Homo sapiens: one gene and its partner. The protein of the gene in region 1 interacts with the protein of each later gene in a biochemical or structural test. Each region holds a gene or a part of one and is shown in the gene's direction. Other genes may lie near its edges.

Region 1 (7,549 bases):
CTAGCCTGATGGCTTTTACTCAGCTTAGGTGTCAGTGCCTCTGGCAGGCCTTCCTCGAACCCCCAAACCTAAGTCCAGTCTTTCCTTTCATAGAACCCTGTACTTTTCCCTCAAAGCCTCTAACATTTGTAACTTCAAATTCATTTGTGGGAGCATTTTTTAAATGCTTCTGCAAACTTGCAGCCCCCTTCAACCATCAGACTGTAAGTTCCAGGGACCCAATATATTTATTTGTTCATCATTGCCTCAGAGTGCCTGGCGCATAATATACCCTTTATAAGTAGTTACTGAGTAAGCGAATCCTGAAATTAAGCCTCTCTAAAGCAAATAGGTATAGGATTCTATTAGTCCCCTTAGCTGTGCCTTCTCTTCTAAAGTTTTAAGAACTGGCCGGGCGCAGTGGTTCACGCCTGTCATCCCAGCACTTTGGGAGGCCAAGGTGAGCGGATCACTGGAGACCAGCATGGACAACATAGTGAAACCCTGTCTCTACTAAAAATACAAAAAAAAATTAGCCAGGTGTGGTGGTACATGCCTGTAATCCCACCTACTGGAGAGGCTGAGGCACAAGAATTCCTTGAACCCAGGAGGCGGAGGTTGCAGTGAGCTGAGATCAGGCCAACCTGGGGCCCAGAGGCAGAGACTGCAGTGAACTGAGATCAGGCCAACCTGGGGCCCAGAGTGAGACTCCGTCTCAAAAAACAAAAAACAAAATAAAACAACAACAACAACAACAACAAAAACTTATCTCCATTCACATTGCCTTCAACAAGAAAGTGATTCTGGAAATAAGATAGAGTAATTCTTTGCAGTCTCATGTTTTAATCTTTTAAAGCAGTTTCTCAACCTTGGCACTATTAACATTTTGGGATGGATAATTCTTTGTTGTGGGGGATGCCCTGCTCACTGTAGAAAGTTAAGCACCATCTTTGAAAGTTAAGCACCATCTTTGGCCTCTATTCATTAGATGCCAGTAACATCAACTCCCCAAAATTGCCGGGTGCAGTGGTGCACACCTGTAGTTCTAACTACTTGGGAGGCTGAGGCAGGAGGATCACCTGAGGCCAAGAGTTCAAAGCAGCAGTGTGCTGTAGTTGTGCCTGTGAATAGTCACTGCACTCCAGCCTTGGTAACAGTGAGACCCTGTCTCTAAAAGAAAAAGCATGGTGGCTCACACCTGTAATCTCAGCACTTTGGAAGGCCGAGGTGGGCAGATCACCTGACATCAGGAGTTTGAGACCAGCCTCGTCAACATGGTGAAACCCCATCTCTACTAAAAATGCAAAAATTTGTCGGGCATGGTGGTGCATGCCTGTAATGCCAGCTACTCAGGAGGCCGAGGCAGAAGAATCGCTTGAACCCGGGAGGCAGAGGTTGCAGTAAGCCTACATTGCACCACTGCACTCCAGCCTGGGCAACAGAGTAAGACTACGTCTCAATAACATAAAACAAAATAAAATAAAATAAAAGGGAAGAAGAAAAGAAAGAGAGAAAGGGAGAAAGGGAGGGAAGGAGGAGGAAAGGAAGGAAGGAAGGAAGGAAGAAAGGAAGTCTTTAGATGTTGCCCCATGCCTGCCAATTCACCTGTGGTTGAGAACCACTGTGTTGAAGTGTGAAACTTCAGGCCTTATTCTCTTGTAGAAGAATTACATATAGAAATTCAGGTTGTTGAATGATTCCCGGGTTATAAGAGAATTCTACCAACCCAGTTGGATCAAAATAGTGCCCACCCCTATCTTGTTTCCGTAGCACTCCCTGCGTTTCCTTTGAAAAGACCATTAGTGATGGTCTAATTCAGGGAAATATTCTGATCTTGGGAAGAAAGAATGCTGGGCTGTTCTAGAAAGATGAAGGAAAGGGGTGGTGTTTCTGAGGAAACCAACGCCTCTGAGACCCCTCTGGAATTGGCAGTCCCCTACAACTTTTCTAGGGGCATGTCCCAGAGGACAGTGAAAGGGAGACAAACAGCCCATTCTGGCCTGCTTTTCAGGATCTCTCACTCCAAACAAGAAAGTCTGAGAGGCCTGGTAAAAATAAATATGGCTTAGTACTCCTGGCACAAGAGCAGTCTCTGACAGCCAAGACTTAACTCACCCTAGGGGGTGACCCAGACAGGGACTATGCACGAAGCTAGTTTCTTACCCATTGATATTCCCAGTGACTCACAGCAGCCAGGGATGACTCTGTGCACCAGAACTGTGCTGAACCGTGGAGAAGGACTTGGGATGCACATAGGAAACAGTCTCTCAAGCTGAGTCAGACAGGGACAGCCCGCCTCTCGTTTCTTCTCCAATTCCAGAAAAACAACACAAATCATGCCTCTGGAAAGGAACCTGTCCTTTGCATACAGAGTGGAAACTGTTTATAACTTCTTAATCCCCTGACATTGAAAGTATGGGGACTGCCTATCCTGGATTTCTTTGGGACAACTGTACTGGCTCTACCACAAGTCCCTAGTTTTCAGCTGGAAAAAAATATGGTCTCCAGAATCCCAAGGTCATTCCCAACAGATTTAAAAGCAAGTCTTCGGCCAGGCAGAGTGGCTCACGCCTATAATCCCAGCACTTTGGGAGGCCGAGGCGGGTGGATCACCTGAGGTCAGGAGTTCGAGACCAGCCTGACCAACATGGAGAAACTCCGTCTACGAAAAATACATTAGCCGGACGTGATGGCGCATGCCTGTAATCCCAGCTACCCTACTCGGGAGGCTGAGGCAGGAGAATCGCTTGAACCCGGGAGGCCGAGGTTGCAGTGAGCTGAGATGGCGCCATTGCACTCCAGCCTGGGCAACAAGAGTGAAACTCCGTCTCAAAAAAGAAAAAAAAAGAGCAAGTCTTCATAAGCAACATATATGAAACCCTGAGACCAACCAAACCTGCATTAGGAAATGAGAGGTGGGAAGGAGGATGCTGGGGAATCAGCCTCTACTTTTGACGTTTTTTCCTCCTTGGATTTTAGGCTGTGGTAACTGATCGAGGCCAGAAATGTTGACAGTCTTGCCTAGCCCCAAGATCATGTAAGCCTGACCTGACGCTACTGCCGCCTTCAGTCAGCAAGAAGAACTACACACCCAGAAAATGCTTCAGTAATAGTTACCATGGTGATGCTAGTTCAACCACATTGCATCTGGATAAAAATTTCAGGCAAAACGATATAGAAAACTACTGCCTAACAAGGAGTTAACACCTTACATCTTTTATGTTGTTGTTGTTGCTGTCGCAAAGTATGGTTCATGTTAGCTTTGGTAAAAGATGGTAATTTGAAGTGAAAGTACTGAAAAAAACAAGCAAGGATGAAATGTCAATGTATCCATTTAGAGAAATCTAATAACCACTTTGCACTATGCCAAATTACTTTCCCCTCAGCTAACAGGGGGCATTTGGGTCTTCCTGACTCTATTTACTGGTGAGGAAAGTGAGTTAATGAAATCCATAGATGATCCAAGCCCAAGAAATGCTGGCATATCAGCTGGGAGGGAAAAAAGCGATATACTGGGCCATCAGAAAGTTGGGCATTTGGGCAAAAGGAACAAAACAAGATTCAACCTGGAAAAATGGAAGGTGGTGAAATTAATCCGTATTATTAATATGCATTAGGGAGAGTAGACCACAAAAGGAAGGAAGACTAGAGACAAGTTTATGATTTTATGCAGTAAATCAAAAGTTAAATCTGAGGGAAGGACCTACAGACTGGGGCTGGAAGGAGGCTGAGGGCTTTGTGGGAGTGCAGCTGCCCATGAGGACTCCTTTCCTGACCCCCTCCCTTCCTTGTCAGGATCAGAAAGTCAAAGAAGGTGAAGAGGCTAACAACAGTGATTTACAAAGACAGCAAGGAGGAACTAAGTCTGTATGGGCCGAATCTGGGCCTCTGAGCTGGAGCAACAGGACCCAGACAACCATCTCAGGAAATGAGTGAATGAAAAGGGGCGGGGGGGTCGGTGAATTATTTAGCCCTAGAACAACGCTGCCTAGACCGGGGGAGGCCAGGGAGAAGAAAATCTCCGAAAAGGAATTTTGACAGTGAGAACGCCAGTTAAGATACAGCACTCCAGGCCCCCTGATGTCCCTTGTTTGATGTCAATAAAGACCCAAGAGGATTATGCATCCACAAGCCTTGCGTATTCGCAGACATCAAAAAAGTCTGGACTTGGGGCCGGTAGGCGGGGGCAGGGTCACGTCCAGGCGACTTGGGTCAGCTCAGGTGCTCGTCTGAAGCATAGAGCTGGAGTGAGCGGGGGCGAGACTTGCTGCTAGGATAATTTTTTTTTTTTAAGTTAGGGAAATTTAAGCAGTAGTAATAGCGACAGGGAGGGGGCTCTCTCTCGGGCCAGGAATGTGGGGGCGGCCTGAGGAGGAGCGGGGCCCCGCGCAGGAGGCGCCGGCGGGTGGGGTCGGGGGACCAGGGAGCCGGGGCCGAGGGCGGGAAGGGGCCGGGCCGGCGCTGGGGGCGGGCCCAGGCGCGGTGGCGGTGGCCGGGGCTGCGGCGCGGGGGGCGGGGCGGTCGGGCCCGGGACACCCCCTCCCGGTCCCCTGGCGGGGCAGCGTCGGCTCTGGCAGCACTGGAGGCGGCGGCGGCCCGAGGGCGACTTGCGGGGCGCGCAGGCCGCCGTGCACCCGGGACGCTTCCCCCTCGGGGACCCTCCGCGGGCTTCTCCGCCGCGCCGTCCGGCGGGAGCCGGCGGGACCCCGGGCGAGCGGCGCGGGCGGCACCATGAGGCGGCAGTGGGGCGCGCTGCTGCTTGGCGCCCTGCTCTGCGCACACGGTAAGCGGCGCCCGCCGGGAAAGTTTGTCCCTGGGTCCGGCCGCTGCAGGACTCGCCTCCCGGGACCTGGACGGCGCGGGCCGGGGCCTGAGACCCCTCGCCCTCGCTCCTAGCCGTGGCCCTGGGGCTGCGTGCAGGGGAGAGGACCCGGAGCGGCCCCGGCTCCAGCAGTCCGAGCGGGGGCATCAGCGGAGGCGCTTCCGCGGGTTCGGGTCTGGGCCGGGGCGCGGGTCTGGGCCGGGGCGCGGGTAAGGTCCGGGGCGTTCGTTCGCTCGCCCTCCCTCGCTGCTCTTTCAAGAGCGGGGGCTGCTTCCCTTTCAGGTTAGGTCGGGGGCTCTGTGTCCTTGGTGCGAATGAATGCGTGCGAAGAAAGGGAGGCGGGTGAGGAGGGTCGCTAAACCCATAAATTGTAAATAGCCCTCCTTCCTGGGGCTGGGGGCTCGGGCGGGTTGCGGAGAGAGGCCCCGGTAGAATCTGGTACTTGGGCACCGGGATTCCTCTACTCGGAGAACGATTCCCGGACTCCAGGTCTTGCTCCCACCAAGGGGCTCTGGGGCACTGTTTGCGGGCAGCATCTCCCCTCGGCGGTGTTTCGGGGTCCCTCTCTTGGCTGCGGCCAGTCAGCTTCCAGCCCTGGATCGTCCTAAAGGGAGGTGGTTGGAAAGGGGGCTGAGGAGGAATATAGGGAAGAAACTGCTGGAAGGCTCCCGCAGATCTGCCCTGGCTGGGGTAGGGGGGCAGGGGGCCGGTAACCCTGAACCCCAGAAGGCAGCCGCCGGGCCCTCGCGGCAGGGTCCCAGCCCTCGGGGGAGCTGGACGGCTGCAGCAGGACTCCTTGGTGCCCGTACCCCCTGTTGTGTGGGACTAGGGCTCCGATGGAATCTGCTTCTCCGCGGGCTCTTAACGACCCTGGGTGCACCCCGTGATTGAGCAGCTTTCCCTAGTTTGTGCCCAGAGATCAAAGAACTTTGATCTTTGAACCCCAGCCCTATTCACCCATCGCTATTCATCGTGGCGGGAGTTCCGAGTCTCCCCATTTGCCTCGCAGCCCCGATGAAGGGAGCTGGGGCTCAGAATGGAGGGGTCTGGAGACCCTGCCTGGTCTTTTACCGGTTCTTTCTTTCACGTAGGACAGCTCGTGTGGAAAAAGTCAGTGCAGATTTCCGAACTTGCCTGGCAGGGCGTGGAGATGTCTAGGCACTCGTTTTAAAGATTGGTTTACCTCCCAAATCCAAAACAGAGTTTTCATGTCTCTTATTTAAACTACCTGTGGGTTTTCAGGGGCTTTTTTCCGCGTCCTCTCTAGCGCGGACTGAGCTCTTTCTCTCCGAAGAGCGGTAGCTTGGCCGGCCCACGTTCCGCTCCGCTCTGCGCTCTCCCCTCCCCGGCTCTCTCCTGGAAGGTTATTTGTAGCCTCTTTGGCGTGTTGGGACAGCGGCCCTACTGGGGTAGGAATGTAGCTGTTCTTCCCACCACATGGGCCCCTTAAAGGGACAGCTTTGCTTTTTGGGGGGTTTCCCCCTTCGGGTTGCAAGGAAAGGGGATGGAACTTTCCTCTCAGCCCCCTGGAGGAAGTTTTGAAAAAGATCAAGGGAAATGGCAAGGCACTGGGAAAAAAAAAAAAAATTAGGGTTAAAACGGATACCAACAAAGCCAGAGAGGAGATTGTCGCCTTCTGCCCTAGGGAAGGGGGAGCTGGAAGGTTCCGGGCTGAGACTGGCCAAGAAGATTTTACTGCTCCAGAGCTGTCAACGCTGCAAATATTACATGTGCATAGAGGATGGGGGTGAGAATGGGGGGAGAGAATTGCGTATGTCTAATGTTTCACAGAAAAAGAATGGGAGGATTCGCGGTAACGCTTTTAGGTTTCTTTCTCTTTTTTTTCTTGGAGAGGGTGTCTCACTCTGTTGCCCAGGCTGGAATGCAGTGGGGCAATCATAGCTCACTACAGCCTCGACCTCCCAAGCTCAAGTGATCTTGTCATCTCAGCCTCCTGAGTAACTGGGACTACAGGCATGCACCACCATACCCTACAAATTTTTGTTTTTTTTTCTAGAGATGGGGTTTCACCATGTTGCCAAGGCTAGTCTCCAACTCCTGGGCTCAAGTGATCCACCTGCCTCGGCCTCCCAAAGTGCTGGTATTACAGGTGTGAGCCACTGTGTCCGGCCCAGGTTTCTTTTTAAGGAAAAAAGTTTAATAGAAACGTCTAAGCATGGGAAGCTTTCTGTGCACATGTTTGTAAGGGTAGGCAGTGGGGTGAAGGTATACACATCACCTGGCCTGATACTGAGCCATCCTTGGAGGTCTGGGGGGTCAGATTCACAGTTCACCAGTAAGATTGAGCAGTTTCAGAGCCTGGAACCAGCACAACCAAAAATACCACCAAAACATCTTTTGGACTGACACTCAATTCCAGGGGCTCAGGGAGACAGCAGTTGTGATAAATGTAGTAGTAGATCCATTAGGCAGACCTGACCTCAGCAAGGCATGAATTAAAGACACTAAAGTTTAAGGTGATTTTGGGAGGCTGAGACTAGCGGATCACTTCAGGTCAGGAGTTCAAGACCAGCCTGGCCAACATGGCAAAACCCCATCTCTACTAAAAATACAAAAATTAGCCAGGCACAGTGGCACATGCCTGTAGTCCCAGCTACTCGAATGGATGAGGCAGGAGAATTGCTTGAACCTGGGAGGCAGAAGTTGCAATGAGCCAAGATCACTCCCCTGCACTCTAGCCGGGGCGACAGAGTGAGACTCTATCTTAATAAATAAATAAAGTTTAAG
Region 2 (2,592 bases), on another chromosome or scaffold:
CCAGGCGGGCGGCCACCCTCACGCGCGCCTCTCTCCACAGACGTGTCCGAGTACAGCTGCCGCGAGCTGCACTTCACCCGCTACGTGACCGATGGGCCGTGCCGCAGCGCCAAGCCGGTCACCGAGCTGGTGTGCTCCGGCCAGTGCGGCCCGGCGCGCCTGCTGCCCAACGCCATCGGCCGCGGCAAGTGGTGGCGACCTAGTGGGCCCGACTTCCGCTGCATCCCCGACCGCTACCGCGCGCAGCGCGTGCAGCTGCTGTGTCCCGGTGGTGAGGCGCCGCGCGCGCGCAAGGTGCGCCTGGTGGCCTCGTGCAAGTGCAAGCGCCTCACCCGCTTCCACAACCAGTCGGAGCTCAAGGACTTCGGGACCGAGGCCGCTCGGCCGCAGAAGGGCCGGAAGCCGCGGCCCCGCGCCCGGAGCGCCAAAGCCAACCAGGCCGAGCTGGAGAACGCCTACTAGAGCCCGCCCGCGCCCCTCCCCACCGGCGGGCGCCCCGGCCCTGAACCCGCGCCCCACATTTCTGTCCTCTGCGCGTGGTTTGATTGTTTATATTTCATTGTAAATGCCTGCAACCCAGGGCAGGGGGCTGAGACCTTCCAGGCCCTGAGGAATCCCGGGCGCCGGCAAGGCCCCCCTCAGCCCGCCAGCTGAGGGGTCCCACGGGGCAGGGGAGGGAATTGAGAGTCACAGACACTGAGCCACGCAGCCCCGCCTCTGGGGCCGCCTACCTTTGCTGGTCCCACTTCAGAGGAGGCAGAAATGGAAGCATTTTCACCGCCCTGGGGTTTTAAGGGAGCGGTGTGGGAGTGGGAAAGTCCAGGGACTGGTTAAGAAAGTTGGATAAGATTCCCCCTTGCACCTCGCTGCCCATCAGAAAGCCTGAGGCGTGCCCAGAGCACAAGACTGGGGGCAACTGTAGATGTGGTTTCTAGTCCTGGCTCTGCCACTAACTTGCTGTGTAACCTTGAACTACACAATTCTCCTTCGGGACCTCAATTTCCACTTTGTAAAATGAGGGTGGAGGTGGGAATAGGATCTCGAGGAGACTATTGGCATATGATTCCAAGGACTCCAGTGCCTTTTGAATGGGCAGAGGTGAGAGAGAGAGAGAGAAAGAGAGAGAATGAATGCAGTTGCATTGATTCAGTGCCAAGGTCACTTCCAGAATTCAGAGTTGTGATGCTCTCTTCTGACAGCCAAAGATGAAAAACAAACAGAAAAAAAAAAGTAAAGAGTCTATTTATGGCTGACATATTTACGGCTGACAAACTCCTGGAAGAAGCTATGCTGCTTCCCAGCCTGGCTTCCCCGGATGTTTGGCTACCTCCACCCCTCCATCTCAAAGAAATAACATCATCCATTGGGGTAGAAAAGGAGAGGGTCCGAGGGTGGTGGGAGGGATAGAAATCACATCCGCCCCAACTTCCCAAAGAGCAGCATCCCTCCCCCGACCCATAGCCATGTTTTAAAGTCACCTTCCGAAGAGAAGTGAAAGGTTCAAGGACACTGGCCTTGCAGGCCCGAGGGAGCAGCCATCACAAACTCACAGACCAGCACATCCCTTTTGAGACACCGCCTTCTGCCCACCACTCACGGACACATTTCTGCCTAGAAAACAGCTTCTTACTGCTCTTACATGTGATGGCATATCTTACACTAAAAGAATATTATTGGGGGAAAAACTACAAGTGCTGTACATATGCTGAGAAACTGCAGAGCATAATACTGCCACCCAAAAATCTTTTTGAAAATCATTTCCAGACAACCTCTTACTTTCTGTGTAGTTTTTAATTGTTAAAAAAAAAAAGTTTTAAACAGAAGCACATGACATATGAAAGCCTGCAGGACTGGTCGTTTTTTTGGCAATTCTTCCACGTGGGACTTGTCCACAAGAATGAAAGTAGTGGTTTTTAAAGAGTTAAGTTACATATTTATTTTCTCACTTAAGTTATTTATGCAAAAGTTTTTCTTGTAGAGAATGACAATGTTAATATTGCTTTATGAATTAACAGTCTGTTCTTCCAGAGTCCAGAGACATTGTTAATAAAGACAATGAATCATGACCGAAAGGATGTGGTCTCATTTTGTCAACCACACATGACGTCATTTCTGTCAAAGTTGACACCCTTCTCTTGGTCACTAGAGCTCCAACCTTGGACACACCTTTGACTGCTCTCTGGTGGCCCTTGTGGCAATTATGTCTTCCTTTGAAAAGTCATGTTTATCCCTTCCTTTCCAAACCCAGACCGCATTTCTTCACCCAGGGCATGGTAATAACCTCAGCCTTGTATCCTTTTAGCAGCCTCCCCTCCATGCTGGCTTCCAAAATGCTGTTCTCATTGTATCACTCCCCTGCTCAAAAGCCTTCCATAGCTCCCCCTTGCCCAGGATCAAGTGCAGTTTCCCTATCTGACATGGGAGGCCTTCTCTGCTTGACTCCCACCTCCCACTCCACCAAGCTTCCTACTGACTCCAAATGGTCATGCAGATCCCTGCTTCCTTAGTTTGCCATCCACACTTAGCACCCCCAATAACTAATCCTCTTTCTTTAGGATTCACATTACTTGTCATCTCTTCCCCTAACCTTCC

Evidence for each region. Proteins that work in one complex are often made in the same cells at the same time.
Region 2: the proteins of LRP4 (region 1) and SOST form a complex in vitro, tested with the Homo sapiens proteins (one study listed by IntAct).

Annotation. Positions count from the first base shown.
Region 1 is NC_000011.10:46,915,541-46,923,089, reverse strand, and holds the start of LRP4 (low-density lipoprotein receptor-related protein 4 precursor), read left to right. Parts: upstream 1-4,539; 5' UTR 4,540-4,710; coding exon 4,711-4,762; intron 4,763-7,549. UniProt on the Homo sapiens protein: Mediates SOST-dependent inhibition of bone formation. Functions as a specific facilitator of SOST-mediated inhibition of Wnt signaling.
Region 2 is NC_000017.11:43,753,212-43,755,803, reverse strand, and holds the end of SOST (sclerostin precursor), read left to right. Parts: intron 1-40; coding exon 41-462; 3' UTR 463-2,066; downstream 2,067-2,592. UniProt on the Homo sapiens protein: Negative regulator of bone growth that acts through inhibition of Wnt signaling and bone formation.